Linked DNA regions of Homo sapiens: region 2 is linked to region 1. The links come from fine-mapping of genetic effects on gene expression. A gene starts in region 1. The other region holds a variant in brackets. All regions are shown on one strand. Distances are from middle to middle.

Region 1 (11,219 bases):
TTTTATGATTCCATTTTCTCTTCATTGCCTCCATCTGACTAGGGTGACAAGGTTTTATTTTAATCTCTTTGCAGTCAGTGAAGTAGGATCCAGGTGTTCCTTCAAGGTGCCCTGATCTTGCCATGTAAGACCTATAATTGCCCATTCTAGTATCAAATGTAAATGAAATTTACAAGAACGTGTCTAATTTGGTAAAATGAATAGATTTGGAAAACCCGCTAAGGAGACTCCCTTATCCCAGGTTAGAGCATGCCTCATTACCTTGAGCAGTATTTTTAAAGGAATCATTTACATACTCCTCCAAATTCTCTTTACTCTTTTAGATGCCCTCCAGGAAGCATCACAGGTTGGAAAGATGGAGTAGCCTGCTCAGATGGGTCTTATACTTTGTTTATAAGTCTGTCTCCCTTCACAGGAATGCAACCTTTTGCACGGGCAGGCTCCGTGTCATATGTATGTTTTCATTTCTAGCACTTAGCACATTATCTGGCATATAGTGAACACTTAGCATTTGCTGAATGAATACATGACCAGGGGAGAGAAAGGAGATGACTCGTATTCCATTGCTATGGTGTGTCATACATGTGTTGGGCCCTTCACTTACTTGATTTTATTTATTTTTCACAACAACCCCAGCTCAGACATTATTTTTCTTTTTACATATGAGAGCAGCGATTACAACTCCAAGGGCTTTGAGAGCCAGCAGGTAACACTGAAGAGAAAGTAGGCAGTAACCAGTAGAAAGTGGAAGGGGTTATGGAGACGTGGCCCAGTCTAAAGGGGGCAGCCCTGACTCAGCTTCACCCAACGGGTGCTGTGTGGGAATATGGGTCCACTGTTGCTGGACTTTTTAAATTTTCCAAAAACTTAGAAATTGAGATGCTTTGGTGGAATTTCCCAACTTTAAAATCATAGTTCACATGTGCTTAAAAGAATTTGTGGCCCAAAGGAATCAAATCTGCTGGACAGTTTTGGCCACAGCAAAACCAGTTTGTACCACCTGCAATTAGGCTTAGAGAAGTTAAGGAAATTGCTCAAGGTCAGGCAATGCCTGAGCTGGGTTTCTAACTTCTAAGTTCTAAATACAATTTGCTTCCTCATATATATATATATATAAAATATATGAATATAATTCATAAGTGATAAAATTATTTTAAAGATTATTTTATTCTCTAACCAAACCAGTCATGGATATTTGGCTGTAATTCCTATATCAATTTTTTTTCTGAGAAATTTGTGTCTGGGCATGATTTCATTTTTAAAATTTTCTCAGAGAACTATGTCTTGGGTGTTATGGGGTAACCTTCATCCCTGTAATACCAGCAAGCTTGTCCAACCTGCCTTATTTTGTTGTTGTTGTTGTTCTGTTTTGTTTTGTTTAGGCTTTTAGAGTCTGAAGCCATGATTTTTAGTTTCTGTCGCTAGTAATAAGTGAAAAAGAGGGATGAGGAAGGGGCTTTACTGGCCCAACCAGAAACAGAAACTAAAAACAAATGACTGTATTCTCTCCCTTGGACATCCCTGCAGGGTCTAAGGTAATTGTCCTTTCCATTGCATTCCTGTTATCACTAGCAGATCAAGCCAGCTATGCAGTGGGATAAGCAATTCCTTGCAGAGAGACAGCATTACAGAGGCACAGATTAGGTCCCACAGCTAGTAAGTGTTGTTAAGTCCAGGATTCAAATCCAAGACTCTGAATCTAGAGCCTGTGTTCTGAACTCCTGTGATATATACCCTCTCTGAATGCAATGGTGATAGACAGAGATGCCTTTGCTTCAGGCTTCTTTTCACCAAGAATAATGAGGTGAGTGTTAGGTAGATTCTTCCCCCTTATTAATTGTTATAGAATTGTCTTCCTTTGGCTGGGTATGATGGCTCACACTTGTAATCCCAGCACTTTGAGAGGCCGAGGAGGGTGTATCAGGAGGTCAGGAGTTCGAGACCAGCCTGACAAACATGGTGAAACCGGGTCTCTATTAAAAATAAAAAAATTAGCTGGGCGTGGTTGCACCTGCCTGTAATCCCAGCTACTCAGGAGGCTGAGGAAGGAGGAATCCGGGAGGGGGAGGTTGCAGTGAGCCGAGATCGTGCCACTGCACTCCAGCCTAGGCAACAAAGCAAGACTCTGTCTCAAGAAAAAAAATATCGACTTCTTTCTAAAATTCTCCATCTATCCACCCATTCATCCATCCATCCACACTCACTCATCCATACATACTTTCCACTTATCCATCCATCCATCCCTCCATTCATCCAACCATCCATCCATCCATCATCCCTCTACTCATTCATCAATCCATCATCCCTCCGCTAATCCATTCACCCATTAATCCATCCCTCCATCGATCACTCCACTCATCCATACATCCTTTTATCTACCCATCCGTCTATCCACATATCCATCCATCCACCCATCCATTCATCCATCATCCCTCTACTCATCCATCAGTTCATCATCCCTCCACTCATCCATTTATCCATCATCCCTCTACTCATTCCTCAATCCATTATCCCTGCATCCATCCATCCATCCATCCATCCATCCAACCATCCATCTACTCATCTATCTATTCTTCCATGTACTTATTTACTTCTTCACCACCACCACCACCACCAAAAATGTAGCAATTCCTTTTAGTAATAGCTGCTTCTATATCATCATGAGCTTCATCAAGGTGACTAATTTCAGAGGAAGCTTTGAGAATCAGAAACTTAAAGATTGGCATTGGATGTCTCTGAGAAAACAGCAGACAGATGTTAACAGGAGCTCTGCTGTTCTGAGTGGTATTTTCCTGGAAGTCTGTCAAGGAGTTTTCCAACTAAAATTAATTTTGTGGCATCTGAGGCAGAAACACAAGCTGTGCTTCATTCCAAGCCTTCATGCATGTGCATGTGTGCATGTGTGTGAGTGCCTCTGTGTGCCTGTGCCCATGTGCACATGCTTCTGTGTGCCTACATGTTTGTGTGTGTATATTTGTATGCATATGCATGTGTATGTGTATGCGTGCATGTGTCTGTGTGTTGGGGATGCGATCGGGCATAGTAAATATTTTGGGGAATAGTAAGAAAATGCAGCATCGCATTAATTGGCACATCTTTCATAAGAATTTAAACACCATGTAGCTCACTTTACAGAACTCAAACATGCTTTCTGAACTGCATTGAATTGAAGGCAGAAACACACCTTTGCCAGGATTACTCCAGGGAATTTAGTCACCAGCAAACGTGGAGTGGATTCTTTATAATGTGCCTATCTTTAGTTATCCAGGTGATAACAATGAATGACAGATGAAATGGCAACCAGAAGGTCTGACTATTTCTGAGGCTGACTCTACAGCTAGAAATGCTCCCCAGTGGCTCCATTCTTTGAACTCCATTAATAGGCTTTCTTGCCTTCTGGCTTTCATTTGCGTTTGGTCAGTGGTGGTGGTGATAGGAATAGCCGTCAGGGGAGGGGAACACAAGCAGCAGGCTAGAAGGGGTATGAAGGAAAGTTAGGTTGGGTATTTATTCCCCTGGGTTCTTTACAAGGGTTACTTTAGGCTGGTTGCACCCCTTAACTGAAATACACACTTCTATGACAGCCCCTTGGGTATCTGCTACCTCTTCTTTCCCCCGCAAGGCCTAGGATGGAAACAGGAACTGCCTTTACCAGCTCTGGTCTCTTGCACTATCTCCTGTGATTTTCCTACCCCTTGCTCATGACTTTGTAATAATTCCATTTATTAGCCTTAACTTGTCCCAATTTTCTGCCAAGATGTCTCTGATACACAGACCAACTGAAGTAATGGGACCCTAAAGCAAGTCTAAACCCATTTGTATGTGATTTTTCTCCATTGAAAGTTATGTAATACCAGACTTCCTTGCTCACAAGAAAGTTGTCAAGGCACAATGAGAAAGTAGACGAAGAGGCTCTGGAAGCGTTAAAATAAAAAGGCAATTCAACGGTAAGATGCTAATGCACCTTATACAATATCATCTCTGTATCTTTTCAGCTATAATAACAGGCAAGAGTAAAATGCTTAGTCACTTACTATCCCAGGAAAGTGGATCCTGTGCTTTCTGGGATGTTCATTAGGCAGCATCTTGCTTTCTACCAATAATTCAGCTGAGCATGAAAAATGTGTTGCACAAATTCCAAACTTCATCAGAACATCCCCACACTTGGCTGGGTGCCCTCCATTTTGTGGACACAGATGTCCAGTTGCTGAGACAAATGAGTCACACTGGAAATCAGTAAGTGCAATAAAACCACACTTGACTTTCAGAGTGCAGCTTGCTTGGAATGCATGGTTTTTGACCAAACTCAAGGAAGAACTTTACTGGGCATTCCAGGAAAGAGCCTCTTCTGGCTTAGGATAAAACAGTCCTTGAGGTGCCTCAGCACCCAGCATTCACAACACTCTAGGGTATACATTCCCATTGGGGCACCTCTCCATATCCTTTGCCCTGGCCATGGGCTTGCCCAGTGAGGCACAGGGATGTTTGAAGTCCTGGGTGAGCAAGCATGAACACAAGGGTTAAGCCGTCCTACCCTGTTTTCTCAGGTGATTGTTCCATACTCAGATTTTTCAGTATTGTGTGTTGATTGCCACATACCCCAAGTCTAGGTTCATCCATTTAATGAAATGTACCTCACTGGCTACAGCACTCACAGGTTTGAGCTAAGCAGGAAGAAAATGTATAAGGTGTAGCAGGTAGGTACTTTCTTGCCTGATGCATTCCACTCCTTTGATAAACAGAAACAAACAAACAAACAAAAAAAAACAAAACAAAACTGAAGGCTAGGAATAGGGTTGGAGAGCAAAGAGGAAGATCGAATTTTCTTGGACATTTTGCTGTGGAGTAGAAAGTAGAGAAGTAGAGAGCAGGAACACAGATATTTGGCACAAAGGAGGCTTTGACTTGCTAGGTACATTCTACAAAGTTTGGGGGGCTCTCTCTGGAAGGGTTCCAAGCTTGGGTAGCATCTCTGCATATCAAGGTCTCCCTGGTCTTATGTCCTTCAGACTAGACTCGAAAGTCTGATTGTTTCAGCAATGCCTCAAGGCAATGTCTTACCACCCATTTCACACGCAGTTTCTGGAATAGCCTCCTCACCTCATCTGTCTTTCTTCTCCTCCTTTACCATAGCAATAGGGACCTGAGTAGGGAGGATGCTCTGTGTCCCTGGTTCCCTCCATCTTCTTGGAAGAGTCTGGTCCCTCTCCTGATAGAGTTTCAGGTTTGCCCTGATGATCTAGATGAAGCAAAGTGTGGTGACACTTCGCTGAATGCTCTGTCAGTGTGCCTAGAAATAGAGTCTCTATCAGGGCCGTTTGCTTCCTATCACACTCCAACTGGCAAGCAGGTGGATTCTCTCACTTAGCAGCTGGCTCCCATCTGCCCCCTGTCAGTCTGCAAATATTACCCGAGTTAAACGCAAATTTCTAGCAGTGATGTGCACAGCCACAAAAAACATATGGATTCAAATATATACTTTTGAAAGTGACACCTTAGTTCAGTCATTTAAATTCGTTAGCTCAAAGATCGGTTTCATTAAAACTCCCACTTCTGCTAAACAGAAATCATGCTGACGTCAGGCACTTACCTCAATTCTCAGAAGTTGAGCAGGTCTAAGCCATCCTGTTCAATACACAATTCCCTTCAGTTTCCCTTACAAGACCTCAAACAAATGTCCAGGAACTGATTCAGGATATATGTTCTCCTCGGAAACCGGTTACTCAAGTTCTTGGTGGCTAATTACAAATACAGTAAACAAGGGACTTCACAGGGGAATCATTCAGTCGAAGCCAGCAAGGGAACTGGTGACCTTCAGTGTCACAGAGCTGGACTTCAGCACAATTAGTTCTTACAAAACAGAAAGCACATGGATTAAAAGCCACAGACACATCCTGAAGATACTTCCCTTATTTGTATACTTTTTAACTTTTATTTTAGGTTTGGGGGTACACGTGAAAATTTATTACATAGATAAACACATCATGGGGGTTTGTCATACGGATTATTTCATCACCTGGGTATTAAGCCCAGTACCCAATCGTTATCTTTTCTGCTCCTCTCCCTCCTCCCACATGTCCCTATTTCCTTATTTTAAGAAAACAACGCAGGTCATATCCCCACAGCTCTTCCTAAAGGTAGATGAATGAACTACAGGGTTCTATCAAAGACCCTCTGGGTCCAGAACTATGTGTGTCAGCTCTAGTTTACTAATCCCTTACTGAATGCATTTGACAGGATCTTTGCTGTTAACAGGGGACAGAGCAAGGACACGTGACATGTGACTTAACCTGTAAAATAACACAGCAGCTCCCATCCCCTGCTCCTCAGAGAGCTCATGTTGGTCTACAGGAGCAAGGATGTAGAGTCCCTTTCCCCTGTGTCTCCCTGAATGACTCTCACTTGGCCATAATTTACAATGAGAGGGTATACATGCTCATGGAGGATGCATATCTTTGCCTCTGTCTACCCTGACACTGGCCCTGTGGACTGGAAAGTCTTTGAGAAAATTGTGAGATCCTGGAATTGTGTGATTTCCTTCCATGCACCCAGGCTCTGAATCAGAGCCTAGACAGTGACCATCACTGGCCAGGGAGAGTCTAGAGGACATGTCATGGCTGTCATTTTTGTATCTCTTTTGTTAGATTCCTGATATCATTTATGGTCACAGGTCATTTTGCTGAAAAGGAGGAACGTGGGATCAAGTTCTGTGACTTCAGAGAAGAGTTGCGTGTACAAAACTTTGGGAGAGGATCACCACAGAGAGGTGATAAGAGCCTACTTGATCTTTTTCTTCTTCTTCTTAAAAGTGATAATATGAGCATAAAACTATTTACAGCTTTAAACAGCTTCAGTACTAAAGCGTGCATAACACATTCCTCTCAACTGAACAATACACAAGCAGGCATTCTGGAGATTTTATTGCAGCAGATTGGTGTGATTATAAGTAAGAAGATTGGCATAGTTAGCTCTCTGGAAAAAGACTTAACCCAGGTTAACACTTTAATACGAATAATTTTTTCTCTAGTTAAAAAAAAAGGTTTCTGAATGCATTTTCTTTGCTTAAACTCCACTGCATCTTACTGTATCCAATCCTACATCTTTGTCTTTATTCACATGTGTATATTCAATCCTATATCTCAAATATGAAAATTATCTCCATCCCTTCTTGCCCTGTTGTTGCCATGACTTGCAGAGCATCATCGTGCAGCTGTGGATGAATGGCCTCCTGGGGCTGTTTTCAACCTTATTTCCTTTTGCTACTGGTTAGTTTGATGCCCTAGGTTTAAGTGTTGGGATATTTGTGGTTTGGAACTTTTAAGATTTCATGTTAGTTTTTTATGGACTCCTATGCTTGAGATATGCATTCTTATCTAAAGAAAAAGATATGTTCTTGTTGACCTTCATATGACCCTCAGGAACAAAATTCAGGCTCTGGGCATCCGGGATTAAGTTTCCTAAAAAGCACTACTTCATGGGTTGACAGTTATGTGCCTTTCACATGAAAATTTCCTCTGCTGCTGAAAGAAAATGCGTAATTACCAGAGGAAATGTCACTTCACATGATGCACAGGTGATATGAGAAAAAATGTGCATTTGTGTAAAGAAACAAACATTCCCAAATACGCCTACCTCATTTGTGCTTCCTTAAGGGCAAAATGCCCTTTTGGGAAACAGACCTTTCCTAGTAGCATTTTCAATGACTCTCAGTCCTTCTCACATTTGGCTTTGACTGAATTCAGAGTTTTCTTGTCAATTAAAAATGATAAATTTAACTTCTTGCAGGAAGACAAATGATCAGCCTGTGTCAAGCATATGAAGACCTACGATTTCAGATGCACTAGAATCATCCTGAAAAATTCATCTGACACACCCAGATGGATGACCAAATGACCGTCATCCAGGGAAAGTCTGGGAGGTCTCATGCAGTATGCAGGTATTCTGAAGAGCCATTAGCTTTTAGAATGTTGCAGCAGCGTTTCTCTAGTTTTTCCTTTCTTCCTGGATCTTCATGAGAATGGCCAACGACATTCACCTCTGCCTACCCTCTGCCAGGAAAATCCAAGACCAACTTCAAGACAGATGTTTGCCCTTTTAGCTTTTATTTTTAGAGGCTCATTGTCTGGGAGTGACATCTATTTACTGGTTATTCATTTTGCTTTCTGCTTCAGGGATGTTGATAAAGAGTGTGGATCTAAATAATTACTTCCCCTCAGCCATCTCACAGAAGGTGTCCTGGTGCATTTTATATCCTGAGGGCAAACGAAAGCTCTGTGTTCTGCTTGGCAATTATTTTCTATGTCGATGCTCCTTTTTCAGCATATGAATGTGTCGAGAGGGTGACTGTTTATTATCTAGAGGTAGTGGTGGGGGCAGATATGAGGGCAGATGTGGAGGGAGGTGGGAAATTTCTAACTCTCCACTTCCATCTGTAATTTCTTTTAAACAGATACTCTGATTTTATATAAAGCAAAGCTCTTTGCATAACCAAATTGACTGCTTTTCTCAGATATTTTCCTGAATAGAATTTTTACTAAGATGGGCTTAACTAATGATGGAAGGAATGTAATCCGTCTGGGAAAAACTTAATCTTCATGGAAAATAAAATCAGATGCATAGGGGCTTTGTAAATTTCATTTACTTCTGCTTCACTTCCTTTCCATTCAAAAAGTAGTTGATTGCATGTGCATGAGAGAGAAGCCAACCAGACACTTTTTTTGTTTGTTTTTTCACCGAATGCATCATACACTGTTGGTGTCCACAAGTGACGGGATAGGGAGCTCATGGAAAAAATGAGGCTGCCCCTTTCGGGAACTTTTCTGTTGACAAAGATAGTTTTGTGAATAATAATGTTGATAAGGAAAGTAACAATCAATATTTTTGAGTTCTTATTATGCACAAAGTTGTTGGGGGAAGCTCTTTATTTGCATTTGCTCATTTAGTTGGCCCAACAATCACACAAAGTAGCTACTATTATTATCTCATGCCTACCACAAAACTCCAAATTTCAACTTTCAACAATGATTCTTCCCTAGGAGTTGCCCATCTCAGTAAACGGTAAAACCAGTTACTAATTTGCTCTGACCTCAAACTTAGAAATGAGTCATCTTTAGTTTATCTCTTTCCCGTTGCCTGCCTGCCCCTCCCTCAATTTGACAACAAATTATCCCAAATTATTGGCAGCAAGTTCCTTAAGTTGGCTTCTTTGATGTGATTCTTGCTTACCTCTCAGACCTCACCTTCCCATCACTCTTTTCACTTCCCCAGCTACACTGGCTATTCTGTTCCTTAAATCTGTCATGCTTGTTAGAAATCCATATTTAATATATCTCAAGTTCTTCCTTTTTGTTCAAATAACTTTAGCTTAAGCACCATCATCTCCAGCTTGGAATATGGAAATAATCTCCTGATTTGTCTCATGCTTTTTTTCTGGTTCCTTTATAAAGATCCAGCATAAGAATGTGCCTTGAATCATGAATCTAATCACATCACCTCACTACCTTAAGCCTACAATGGCTTTGCTTTGCTCTTGGAAGAAACACATACCTCCTAACTTAGCCTTTGTGATCTGATGGCTGCCTGCCCATCAGATCTGCCCCCATCACTGTCCCCCTCACTCACTATGTCCCAGCTTTACCAACCCCTTTTCTCTCTATCTTGAACATATCCCTGTTTTTTCTGCCTCAGAGCTTTGTACTTATTGCTTCTTATCCTGGAAAAATCTTCACCAGTGTTCACTTGATTGGTTATGTATCGTGGTCATAATTTTACACTTTAAAGTGAAAAATAAATAGTAATCAACAAGGAATAACATGCTATCACATTCATTCCACCACTGGGGAAGACTGAGACTTGGGTGTGGGAGGAGTTTGAATGACAGACAAAATAGCAGATTTTGAAGGGAGTGACTATAGATTTTGTATATTGGAGTTGGGCTGAGCCCAACCTCTTTGGGAGACAGAATGTGCATCTTCCTCTGATTTTACCATAAGCATTATAAACAAATTAAGTATGTATGTATTCATATTGCCTCACCTACTCTGTCTGATGCCAACATTGCATGGAAGAAAACTTTGGAGGGCGCAGAATTGGCAAGTCAATAGAATAGATGAATCATCTCTACTGATAAGGAAGCTGAGGCATAGAGAGGTCTTTTAAAGCTTGCTTACAGTGAAAGTTAATGTGCAGAGGCAGAACTTAAACCTAGAACTGATTTCAAAGGACCTGCTGCTCCTCTAATTATGTGCTGGCCATGTCATTCTCACACTATCTCTATTCTATAGCATTTGATTTGAATCACATAATTGAGCACATGATTCAATATACTCTTTCCTAATGTTTCATGTATGCTTTATGATATTTCATATATGTTGTCATAATACTTTGTCTCATCTACACCTTTATAAGCTCCTGAGTCCAAAGAACAGTCTTTCATAGTTTTTGGCACACAGAAAGCCCTCTACAAACCTTTGCTGCTTAGGGAATTATATTTCTGTTGTATCTTTAGACAATCAGCCAAGTTGTTATTAAATCCTCACTGTAGATATACTGCTATTTCATATGCAAAGTGATACTATTGAAAATAGAGTTCTTAGGATACAAAGTGCAATCGAAACAGAATGAATATTGAGTTTCTCTGAATGAATTTGCATACCGTGATGGTTAATATTGAGTGTCAACTTGATTGGATTGAAGGATGCAAGGTGTTGTTCCTAGGTATGTCTGTGAGGGTGTTGCCAAAGGAGATTAACACTTGAGTCAGTGGACTGGGAGAGGCAGACTCATCCTCAATCTGGGTGGGCACCATCTAATCAGCTGCCAGTGTGGCTAGGATAAAGCAAGCAGGGGAAGATGGAAGAGCAGACTTGCTGAGTCTTCCAGGCTTCACCTTTCTCCCACGCTAGATGGTTCCTGCCCTCGAACATCAGACTCCATGTTCTTCATCTTTTGTACTCTTGGACTTACACCAGTGGTTTGCCAGGGGCTTTCAGGTCTTTGGCCACAGACTGAAGGCTGCACTGTTGGCTTCCCTACTTTTGAGGTTTTGGGACTCAGACTGATTCACCTTTGGCTTCCTTGCTCCTCAACTTGCAGACAGCCTACTGTGGGACTTTACCTTGTGATCGTGTGAGTGACTTCTCCTGAATAAATTCCCTTTTGTATATACATATATCCTGTTAGTTCTGTCCCTCTAGAGAACCCTGAATAATACACATACA
Region 2 (11,219 bases), 190 kb before region 1:
AAAGACATTGTATTAGTTTCCTATGATTGCTCTGACAAATTACCATAAACGTAGTGGCTTAAAACAACAGGAATTTATCATCTTAAAGTTATGGAAGTCAGAATTCTGAAATGGGTCTTTTGGGACTAAAATCAAAGTGAAATCAACAGAGCTGGTGTTCCTTCTGGAAGCTCATGGGGAGAATCTTACCCCTCTAGCTTTTTTCTTTTTTTTTCCTTTGCCCAGGCTGGAGTGCAGTGGCACAATCTCGGCTCACTGCAACGTCTGCCTCCCGGGTTCAAGTGATTCTCCTGCCTCAGCCTCCTGAGTAGCTGGGATTATAGACGCACGCCACCATGCCTAGCTAATTTTTGTATTTTTAGTAGAGACGGGGTTTCACCATGTTGATCAGGCTGGTCTCGAACTCCTGACCTCGTGATCTGCCCACCTTGGCCTCCCAAAGTGCTGGGATTACAGGCGTGAGCCACTGCACCTGGCCCAGGACGTAGACATCTTTAGTGGGGTATTGTTCTGCCCACCACAGATACTATTGCTTCTGGTGTTAAATAACATTTTATTTGAGTAGATAAGAAATATGACCCTGTATCTTCCCAAAAGACAAATGGAGATCATTAGTAAACAACTCAGTCACTTCATCTGGCTTCCCTCACTATTTCTTGTCACCTGTTGTCCAGCTGCTTCAGCTACGGACCATAGATTGGCATTCCCTGCATGCACTTGCTGGCTTCTTCTCTCTTTCCTTAGCTACGGACACTAATTAAGCACTTTCCCGGGTACTATGCCCACGCCCACTCATGAATACACAAACCCTACTGTGCTAAGGCATTATTACTGAGGCAAAAATGAACTCTCTTCTGAAGCATTTTACTGGTAGCATCTGTGGAGAGCTTGCAATTTCTCTAGTCTTGGAAATTGTTTAGACACAAAATAGCTACTTTCCATCCTGAGTATCTCCTGAGAACATTGTCAGATAAGATTCAAGTTTCTTGGATTTTCAGATTATATTGTACTCCAATGAGCCTTCTATTCCTGGGATATCTAATTTTGTCCTCCTCCACCCCTTCCTTTCACAGCTCTAGGCAGAATAGAAGCTGGCAAAGACCTCAAATGATTTATTTTTTAATATAACAAAGTTTAAAGCTCTAGTTACATTGATGCCACAAAAATGCACAAATCATCACACACATATACATATATATGAGAATGTTCTATTTATGTAAGTAGTAATTGTGCATTTCAATAAGACTGAATGATTCATAGGAATTTTCAGAAAGCAGCACAGACATGAATCTTTAATCTTCTAAAAGACCTTTATGTTTTCCCTTCAGGGAGAACAACAAATTTGCTTTTGCTAAATAGTCTTTAATTTCCTTTTTATTTTAGGTTTTTAGGATTTATATAATTTACAGTTTTCCAGATATTCATTATTTATTCCGTATGGAAGTGCTTCATAGTACCATATATTATTTTAATTGATGATGGAGAGTTAATAATTTTTTGTTTCAGCAACCAAACTATTAATTTCCAAAGTGGTTTCTCATTCAAAACCATAGTTGTAGGCTATTATAATGAAATTATTCACGAAATTAGTTTCCAAAGACTAAATATTAATTTGGCATTTTCTCAATGATTAGAGTTTTCTGAAATGTTTGTGGTATAGAGGAGCCTGAAATACAACCCTGTGCAATAATATGCATTCTTTGTTTTCAAGGGCCTTTTCTCAAGTAGAGGCTTCACATTCTTCATGACTTTGAGATAAATTGCTTGTGGCTATTTTTTGCTTTTACCACTTACAAAGTTAAAGGTACTGTGTTTTTTACAGTTTTTTGCTTTTACCACTTACAAAGTTAAAGATACTGTGTTTTTTTTTAAATAATTTGGACAGATTCATGAGGAGAAAATTACAATAATAATAATCAGCTGTTTCAACAAGTCTTAGAAAAATAGAAGACTGAGATATAGATTTCCTGTGTGCACCAACAGATTGATTGAAAATGAAGAGGCAGGCTTGGTATATGAAGATGATTCATCCGCAATGTGATCTGTGTTCTGATGAAGGTAAGGGCTAAGTGCTAAGTTAGCATTGAGGTGACAATGCCTTATCTTGTCTGAGAGAGTAGGGAAAGGGCAGTCTCTTCAATAAATGGTGCTGGGAAAACTGGATGTCTACACGCAGAAGAGTGAAACTAAACTCCTGTCTCTCACCATTTATTAAAATCAACTCAAAATGCATTAAAGATGTAAATGTAGGATGTGAAACTATGAAACTACTAGAAGAAAACATTGGGGAAATGCTCCAGGATATTGGTCTGGGCAAAGAGTGTTTTTGTGTAAGACCTTAAAAGCACAGGCAACAAAAGCAAAAATAGACAAATGGGATTACATCAAACGAAAAATCTTCTGCACAGCAAAGGATACAAACAGCAGAGTGAAGCGAAAACCCACAGAATGAGAGAAAATATTTGCAAACTATACCACTGACAAGGGGTTAATATCAAGAATAAATAGGGAACTCAAACAACTCAGTAGCAGAAACCCCCCAAGTTATCTGATTAAAAATAAGACAAAAGATCTGAATTGATATTTTTCAGAAGATGACATACAAATGGCCAACAGTTATATGAAAAAATGTTCAACATCGTTAATCATCAGGGAAATGCAAACAAATCAAATCTACAATGAGATATCATCTCACTCCAGTTAGAATGGATATAGTCAAAAAGAAAAAAATGACAAATGCTGGTGAGGATATGGTGAAAGAGGAACTTATACACTGTTGATGAGAATGCAAGTTAGATAGCCATTGTGGACAACAACAAAAGTTTCTCAAATAATTAAAAATAGAGCTACCATTTGATCCAGCAATACTACTACTGACCACATATCCAGAGAAAAAGAAATCAGTGTGTCAGACACATATCTGCACACGTATGTTTATTGTAACACTCTTTGCAATTGCCAAGATATGGAATCAATCTAAGTGTCCATCAACAAATGGATGGTTAAAAACTTGTGGCATATATACACAATGGAATACTACTCAGCCATAAGAAAGAATTGAATCCCATCATTTGCAACAACATGAATGAACCTAGAGGGCATTATGTTAAGTAAAATAAGCCAAGGACAGAAGGAAAAATACTGTTTTCTGTATTATCTCACTTTTGTATGAAATCTAAAAAAGTTGATCTCATTGAAGTATGGAGTGGAATGCTGGTTACCGGAGTCCGGGTAGCGTCACGGGGAGGGGATATTGTGAGAGATGGGTCAGTGGCTACAGAGTTAAAGTTAGATGGGAGGAATAAGTCCTGATGTTCTATTGCACAGTTAGGTGACTGTAGTTATTAATAATGTACAAGATATTTCAAAATACAATTATGCATTGCATAATGATGAGGATACCTTCGGTGAAATGTGTTCTTAGGCTATTTTGTCATTGTGTGAACTTCATACAGTATACTCATGCAAGTCTAGGTGGTATAACCTATTGCTCCTAGGCAATAAACCTGTACAGCATGTTACTATACTGAATATTGTAGGCAATTGTAACACAATGGTAAGTATTTATGTGCCTAAACATGGCTAAACTTAGAAAAGTTACAGTAAAAATATGTTGTAAAAGATTAAAATGGTACACCTGTATAGGGCAGTTACCACGAATGGCACTTGCAGGACGAGAGAAGTTGCTCTGGGTGAGTCAGTGAGTGACTGCTGAGTGAACGTGAAGGCCTAAGTCATTACACTACTGCAGGCTTCATAAACACTGTTCGCTTAACACTGCACTAAACTTATACAACATTTGTCTTTCTTCCATAATAAATTAACCTTAGCTAACTGTAACTTTTTAACTTTTTAAACTTTAAACATTAAAAAAACCTTTTAACTCTTTTGTAATAACAGCTTAAAATGCAAAGACATGGAATAGTTTTACAATACTATTTTTTCTTTATATCGTTATTCTATAAGCTTTTTCCTGTTTTAAAAACTTTTAATTTTTATTTTACTTTTTAACCTTTTTTTTTTTTTTTTTGAGACTGAGTCTCACTCTGTTGCCCAGGCTGGAGTGCAGTGGCATGATCTCGCCTCACTGCAGCCTCTGCCTCCCTGGTTCTAGCGATTCTCCTGCCTCAGCCTCTGAGGTAGCTGGGATTATAGGCATGCGCCCCCACCCCCGGCTAATTTTTGTATTTTTAGTAGAAATGGAGTTTCACCATGTTGGCCAGGCTGGTCTTGAACTCCTGACCTCAAGTGATCCACCTGCCTTGACCTCCCAAAGTGCTAGGATTACAGGCATGAGCCACAGCACACGGCCTAAACATTTTTTTTTTCTTTTAATAACTAAAACACAAACACATACATTAGCTTAGGCCTACACAGGGTCAGGATCTTTAAGACCTCACCAGGTGACAGGAATTTTTTTCAGCTCCATTATAATATTATAGGATGACTGTCATATGTGGTCCATCCTTGACTAAATGTCATTATTATGTGGCTCTTGACTATAGCTAGAGGAAAGGATTTTAGATGTCCCCACGACAAAGAAATGACAAGTGTTTGAGGTGATAGATAGGCTAATTACCCTGATTTGATCATTACATAAAGTACACATGTATCAAAACATCACACTCTACCCCATAAATATGCACTATTAGTATGTGTCAACTAAAAGGAAAAATAAACAACTAAAAAAAATATCTTCAGGTGTTTGTGGTTTTTCAGAGAGGGATGTGACTTAGGGGAGGGTGCTGTGGATTGACTGGCCAACCAGAGGGAAATATGGGGCTTTTTTGCTCACATAAATCATAAAATTGCAACAGGCGTGATAAAGAACCGATAGAGGACTTCAAATATATAGACATGTTTCGGGAGTCTCATGCTGCTGAAAGCGGAGCAACCGATAAGCTTTCGCCTGGTCTTGCTGGCAGGTTCATTTATAAGCAGTAGTGAAAGAAAAAATGTTAGTGAAATAGGCTGTCTGATGTGGAGTTTTCTGACTTTGTAGAAATAATTTATCAGATGTTTTGATGACTGCAGGTTTGCTCAGTGATAAAGCACAGACTTAAGTGTCAACTGAATTTGGATTCAAATTCAAGGTATGCCATTACCAGTAGAATTACCTCGAACAAGTTAGTTAACTTCTTTGGGTCATGAAATTTTCATTCGTGTAATAAGGAAAATATTAATTCATACCACAGAGGATTGTTGTCAGGTTTAAACAAGATAGTGCTTGTAAAGTGCATGGTAGACAGTGTACACTGGAATGCTTGTTTGATTATGACGAAAAA[GAA/A]ATTTTAGAAAGAGACAAGTCCCTGAAGCCTATATAGACCCTTCTTTCTATGCTGTATTTCTCACTAACGTTACCTTGTTTTACAAACTAGATGCCTGCCATTAAAAAGGAGGAACTGTCTTTGAGGAGTTAGGATCAATTATGTGTTAACAAGACAAATGTGTATTTGAAATTTTAACCCTTCTGTCATTAATTAATCTGGGAGCTATGGTAAAAAAATTTAAGATTTTTCTTCTCTTAAAACTAGCTGACTGGACTGCATCTAAGTTTTCATTAAGTAGGCAATCAAAATCTTCAGTTTTTATTTAAAAAGACTCGTGGTAGAGAGAGACAGTTTAAATGCATAAGGAATGAGGTGGAATAATGATTTGGTGCATATATTCTGATAATTACTACTTCCTTTCTCTCAGCTCCCTTGCAATAAATGTGCTGTCTTTTTAAACTTCATTAACAAGAGATTACAAATTTTAATGGGGTACAATAATTCTACCTTAATTTCAGAGCAATGTAATGCAGGTATCTGTTCTTTCTAAGTAATTTTCCCTGAAATATTCCCAATGATTCAGAAAAGTTCTTTAAGGATTGAAATGATATATAGTGTTGGTACCAAATACATTTTATATTTTAATATTGAATGTTAGATATTATTAAGCCTTTAGTATTGCAAGTGAAACAACAGCTGATTGTGCTCTTGTGCAGAAACCAAATCTTTCTTTTTTTTTTTTTTTTTCCATTTAACCATGAGTGGACACAGCACATGTTTCAGAGAGCACAGGGTTGGGGGTAAGGTCACAGATCAACAGGATCCCAAGGCAGAAGAATTTTTCTTAGTGCAGAACAAAATGAAAAGTCTCCCATGTCTACTTCTTTCTACACAGACACGGCAACCATCCGATTTCTCAATCTTTTCCCCACCTTTCCATTCCACAAAGCCGCCATTGTCATCCTGGCCCGTTCTCAATGAGCTGTTGGGCACACCTCCCAGACGGGGTGGTGGCCGGGCAGAGGGGCTCCTCACTTCCCAGTAGGGGCGGCCGGGCAGAGGCGCCCCTCACCTCCCGGACGGGGCGGCTGGCCGGGCAGGGGGGGCTGACCCCCCCCACCTCCCTCCCGGACGGGGCGGCTGGCCGGGCGGGGGGCTGACCCCCCCCACCTCCCTCCCGGACCGGGCGGCTGGCCGGGCAGAGGGGCTCCTCACTTCCCAGTAGGGGCGGCCGGGCAGAGGCGCCCCTCACGTCCCAGACGGGGCGGCTGGCCGGGCGGAGGGCTGACCCCCCCACCTCCCTCCCGGACAGGGCGGCTGGCCAGGCGGGGGGCTGACCCCCCCACCTCCCTCCCGGATGGGGCGGCTGGCCAGGCGGGGGGCTGACCCCCCCACCTCCCTCCCGGACGGGGCGGCTGGCCGGGTGGGGGGGCTGACCCCCCCACCTCCCTCCCGGACCGGGTGGCTGGCCGGGCAGAGGGGCTCCTCACTTCCCAGTAGGGGCGGCCGGGCAGAGGCGCCCCTCACCTCCCAGACGGGGCGGCTGGCCGGGCGGAGGGCTGACCCCCCCCACCTCCCTCCCGGACAGGGCGGCTGGCTGGGCGGGGGGCTGACCCCCCCACCTCCCTCCCGGATGGCACGGCTGGCCGGGCGGGGGGGCTGACTCCCCACCTCCCTCCCGGATGGGGCGGCTGGCCGGGCGGGGGGCTGACCCCCCCCACCTCCCTCCCGGACGGGGTGGCTGCCGGGCGGAGACGCTCCTCACTTCCCAGATGGGGTGGCTGCCGGGCGGAGAGGCTCCACACTTCTCAGACGGGGCGGCTGCCGGGCGGAGGGGCTCCTCACTTCTCAGACGGGGTGGTTGCCAGGCAGAGGGTCTCCTCACTTCTCAGACGGGGCGGCCGGGCAGAGACGCTCCTCACCTCCCAGACGGGGTCTCGGCCGGGCAGAGGCGCTCCTCACATCCCAGATGGGGCGGCGGGGCAGAGGCGCTCCCCACATCTCAGACGATGGGCGGCCGGGCAGAGACGCTCCTCACTTCCTAGATGTGATGGCGGCTGGGAAGAGGCGCTCCTCACTTCCTAGATGGGATGGCGGCCGGGCGGAGACGCTCCTCACTTTCCAGACTGGGCAGCCAGGCAGAGGGGCTCCTCACATCCCAGACATGGGCGGCCAGGCAGAGACACTCCTCACTTCCCAGACGGGGTGGCGGCCGGGCAGAGGCTGCAATCTCGGCACTTTGGGAGGCCAAGGCAGGCGGCTGGGAGGTGTAGGTTGTAGTGAGCCGAGATCACGCCACTGCACTCCAGCCTGGGCACCATTGAGCACTGAGTGAACGAGACTCCGTCTGCAATCCCGGCACCTCGGGAGGCCGAGGCTGGCGGATCACTCGCGGTTAGGGGCTGGAGACCGGCCCGGCCAACACAGTGAAACCCCGTCTCCACCAAAACCAGTCAGGCGTGGCGGCGCGTGCCTGCAATCGCAGGCACTCGGCAGGCTGAGGCAGGAGAATCAGGCAGGGAGGTTGCAGTGAGCCGAGATGGCAGCAGTACAGTCCAGCTTCGGCTCCACATGAGAGGGAGACTGTGGGGAGAGGGAGAGGGAGACGGAGAGGGAGAGGGAGAGGGAGAGGGAGAGGGAGAGGGAGAGGGAGAGCGAGAACGCTCACATCTTCTATCTGTCCAAACTCAAACCAAATCTTTCTTACCAAGTTTTAACATTTTAATAGGAATTAAGGTTTTCTTAGCAGTGGTTGTGGCTTAGTGGATAACGCACTAAGAAAATCTGGCAACCAGCGCTTAACCAGACCTAAGTGCCAAAATGACTGAGCTATAACTCAAGTAAAAGCATTTTAACATTTTATGAAATATTGAAACATCACATCCACAATCAGTAGGCCTCAACACTGAAAATGGCAATTATGCAATTCGGAGACCACCATGGACATAATCCTGGCCTTTTTTTCTTTTTCTCACTGGACTGGCGTCTAGTCTTTGTAATACTGATTTTTTTTTTTCTGAATATGTTCCCTATCCAGTGATGTTTCTAAACCTCTGAATTTGAGAAGGGATAATTGAAGCAACTAAATAAATGGATTACGAAAAATTGTGCAAAATTTATTTCCAAAGTTCAAGAAAGAGCCAAAAAGCTTTCCTGGAATGGTCTTGGGTTTAGAATGAACTTTTAAGTTGAAAACAGAAATTTTCCCCCAAGAGAGATTGTCCTTTGAAACTGTCAAGAATAAACAAACAGCAACAATTATTCTCTGATTCTTGCTTCCTGAGAAACTAATAGTTCTTGAGATTGGTCCTGTGGGATAAAAGAAGCCTTTGCATTTTCTCTAAGTAAGATGTTTTGAATTTAACTTCACACTTAACAGTTTTTTTCTCTGTCTCATCATGTTATCAATTACATCCTGAGGCATGTTTTAGCTTCTGTTTTAATTGATTCCCATACTGTTCTGTAGAGACTATCACTAGTCATCAATTCCTTCATAGTTTAATTTAAGTTTTTCTTTTTTTTTTGGCAAGGGGGAGATAGAAGGACAGGGTAGCAATTTAACATGTTTCATTATGAGTCCCTGCTTTAATATTACTTTATATCAAGCTGATCAAGAGTCGAACACATGATATTTCCAGTTGGGTGTGTATGAAAAAGCTCAGGGATAGGGCACAATTAAGAGAATTTTTTTGTTGTTGTTGTTAATGAGAAGATCCATTCATCTCCCTGTCAGCCAATTTTTTTGACCCTTAGGGATTTTATCTGTGGAGAAATTACTGTAAAGCAATGTGGCAAATTGCTTTAGAATAATCCTGCCAGAGTCAGAGACTTCCTGGTTTTCCACCCCCTTCCCTCCTACCCAGCCTGGTAAAACTTTGTCTCCTGTGACTTCAGGGGAATCCATTCTCTGAAACCATTTCTTACCTCTGCAAAAAAGTGTAATCTAGAGGGAGCTTCATTGAAAGGGCAAGAAATTTGAAGTCAGATAAATTGGGTTTTCCTTGATTTTCTCATGGTTAAAATGCATGTTGAAGCTGGGCGCGGTGGCTCACACCTGTAATCCCAGCACTTTGGGAAGCCCTGGCGGGTGGATCACGAGGTCAGGAGTTCAAGACCACCCTGACCAACATGGTGAAACCCTGTCTGTACTAAAAATACAAAAATGAGCTGGGCGTGGTGGTATTCGCCTGTAGTCCCAGCTACTTGGGAGGCTGAGGCAGGAGAATCGCCTGAACCCAGGAGGTGGAGGTTCCAGTGAGCCAAAATTGCTCCACTGCACTCCAGTCTGGGTGACAGAGTGAGACTCAATCTCAAAAAAAAAAAAAAAAAGAATGTTGGGTGTTGGGGAGGAAAAAATTTTTGTCTACTTGCTTATGCTAAGTGCTTGGGGGCCTGCAAATTAAACTACAGAAGAAAAGACACGCAGGTTTTGTTAATATTTATTGGCACAGAGATCACAGAAAATATTAGGTTGGTGCAAAAATAATTGCGGTTTTGCCTTTTTTTTTTTTCTTTTTCTTTTCTTTTTTTTTTTTGAGAGGCAGTCTCACTCTGTTCCCCAGGCTGGAGTGCAATGGTGCAATCTTGGCTCACCGCAACCTCTGCCTCCTGGGTTCAAGTGATTCTCCTGCCTCAGTCTCCCAAGTAGCTGGGATTACAGGTGTGTGCCAACACATCTGGCTAATTTTTGAATTTTTAGTGGAGTTGGGGTTTCACCATGTTGGCCAAGCTAGTCTTGAACTCCTGACCTCAGGTAATTGGCCCACCTTGGCCTCCCAAAGTGCTGGGATTACAGGCAGGAGCCATTGTGCCCAGTTGGTTTTTGCCATTACTTTCAATGGCAAAAAATTGCAATTACTTTTGCACCAAGCTAAGAAGTGAAACAAAGAAATGATTAGATTTAGGAAACAGTGCTTGGGCTTCAAAGGATCATAAATTATAGGGGAAGTGACTGGGAAATATGTAGGGGATCTAATGGAAAATAAAGACTATTGTAGAAGATAAGTTTTTTTTTTTTTTGAGGCAGAGTCTCATTCTGTCTTTGAGCCTGGAGTGCAGTGGCGTGATCTCGGCTCACTGCAAGCTCCGCCTCCTGGGTTCACACTATTCTCCTGCCTCAGCCTCCTGAGTAGCTGGGACTACAGGCGCCCGCCACCACACCCAGCTATTTTTTTTTTGTTTGTATTTTTGGTAGAGACAAAGTTTCACCATGTTAGCCAGGATGGTCTCAATCTACTGATCTCGTGATCCGCCCCCCTCGGCCTCCCAAAGTGCTGAGATTACAGGCGTGAGCCACCGCATCCAGCCAGAAGATGAGTTCTTTAGACTCTTCAGCTGTCATGACATTTCTGCATTTTGCCATTTGACTCAAACACTATTAGTGGTTCCTCTTGGTCTAAGAGACAAAACCAACTTGCTAATTGGCATTTAAGAATCCTTTAACAAGGACTGATCAGGCTTCTCTAACCAGTTTATAAAAATGCCTAGTGGAACCTGGCCTTTGCATCTCATAATTTTCCTGCAATCTAAGTTCCAGTCTGTCTTCAATGCTGAAGTCAAGGTTTGCTGACCATACTCTCTGATTGGCCTAGAGCAGGCACTTTTTATACCTGTTGTCTCAGCATACTTATTAACAGTATCCTGTTTCTCATTCAAAAGTATCCAGGCTTAGAAGATAAATGATATGTCATCCTACTTATGAATCTTTCCTGTCCATCCCAAACTGCAATGGCTATTTCCTTCTTCTGAAATCCTTAGAGATGTCTGTCTAAAGCACTGCTTTAGCGTGTAGCACATGCTATAATTACGATGTGCCCACCATGTGCCAGGTACCTGAATACACTATCTATATAATCTATGAAACCTATTTTTTCAGATAAGCAATAAAAGACACAAACAGCAATTTAAAATCATTTCTTGTTCATTGTCTCAGAGGCAGTGGCAGCAGGA

Alleles and levels. Alleles are on the strand shown, and positions count from the first base shown. SD is a standard deviation of normalised expression in the study named.
For the expression in stomach of the gene that starts at base 5,672 in region 1, allele GAA in region 2 goes with a higher level than allele A (moderate effect, 0.44 SD a copy in GTEx).

The links.
Region 2: its variant is fine-mapped to the expression of LINC02343 in stomach (GTEx, PIP 0.93).

Annotation. Positions count from the first base shown.
Region 1 is chr13:34,342,496-34,353,714 of GRCh38, reverse strand. LINC02343 (long intergenic non-protein coding RNA 2343) reads right to left here and starts at 5,672. Exons shown (of 4, transcript NR_146542.1): 1 at 5,591-5,672.
Region 2 is chr13:34,536,511-34,547,729 of GRCh38, reverse strand. The region is part of intron 2 of LINC02343 (long intergenic non-protein coding RNA 2343); the gene reads right to left. The region is part of intron 1 of LINC00457 (long intergenic non-protein coding RNA 457); the gene reads left to right. Among named protein-coding and RNA genes, the nearest start is that of LINC00457, 99 kb to the left of the region's middle. The variant GAA/A (reference allele first, on the strand shown) is at 5,286.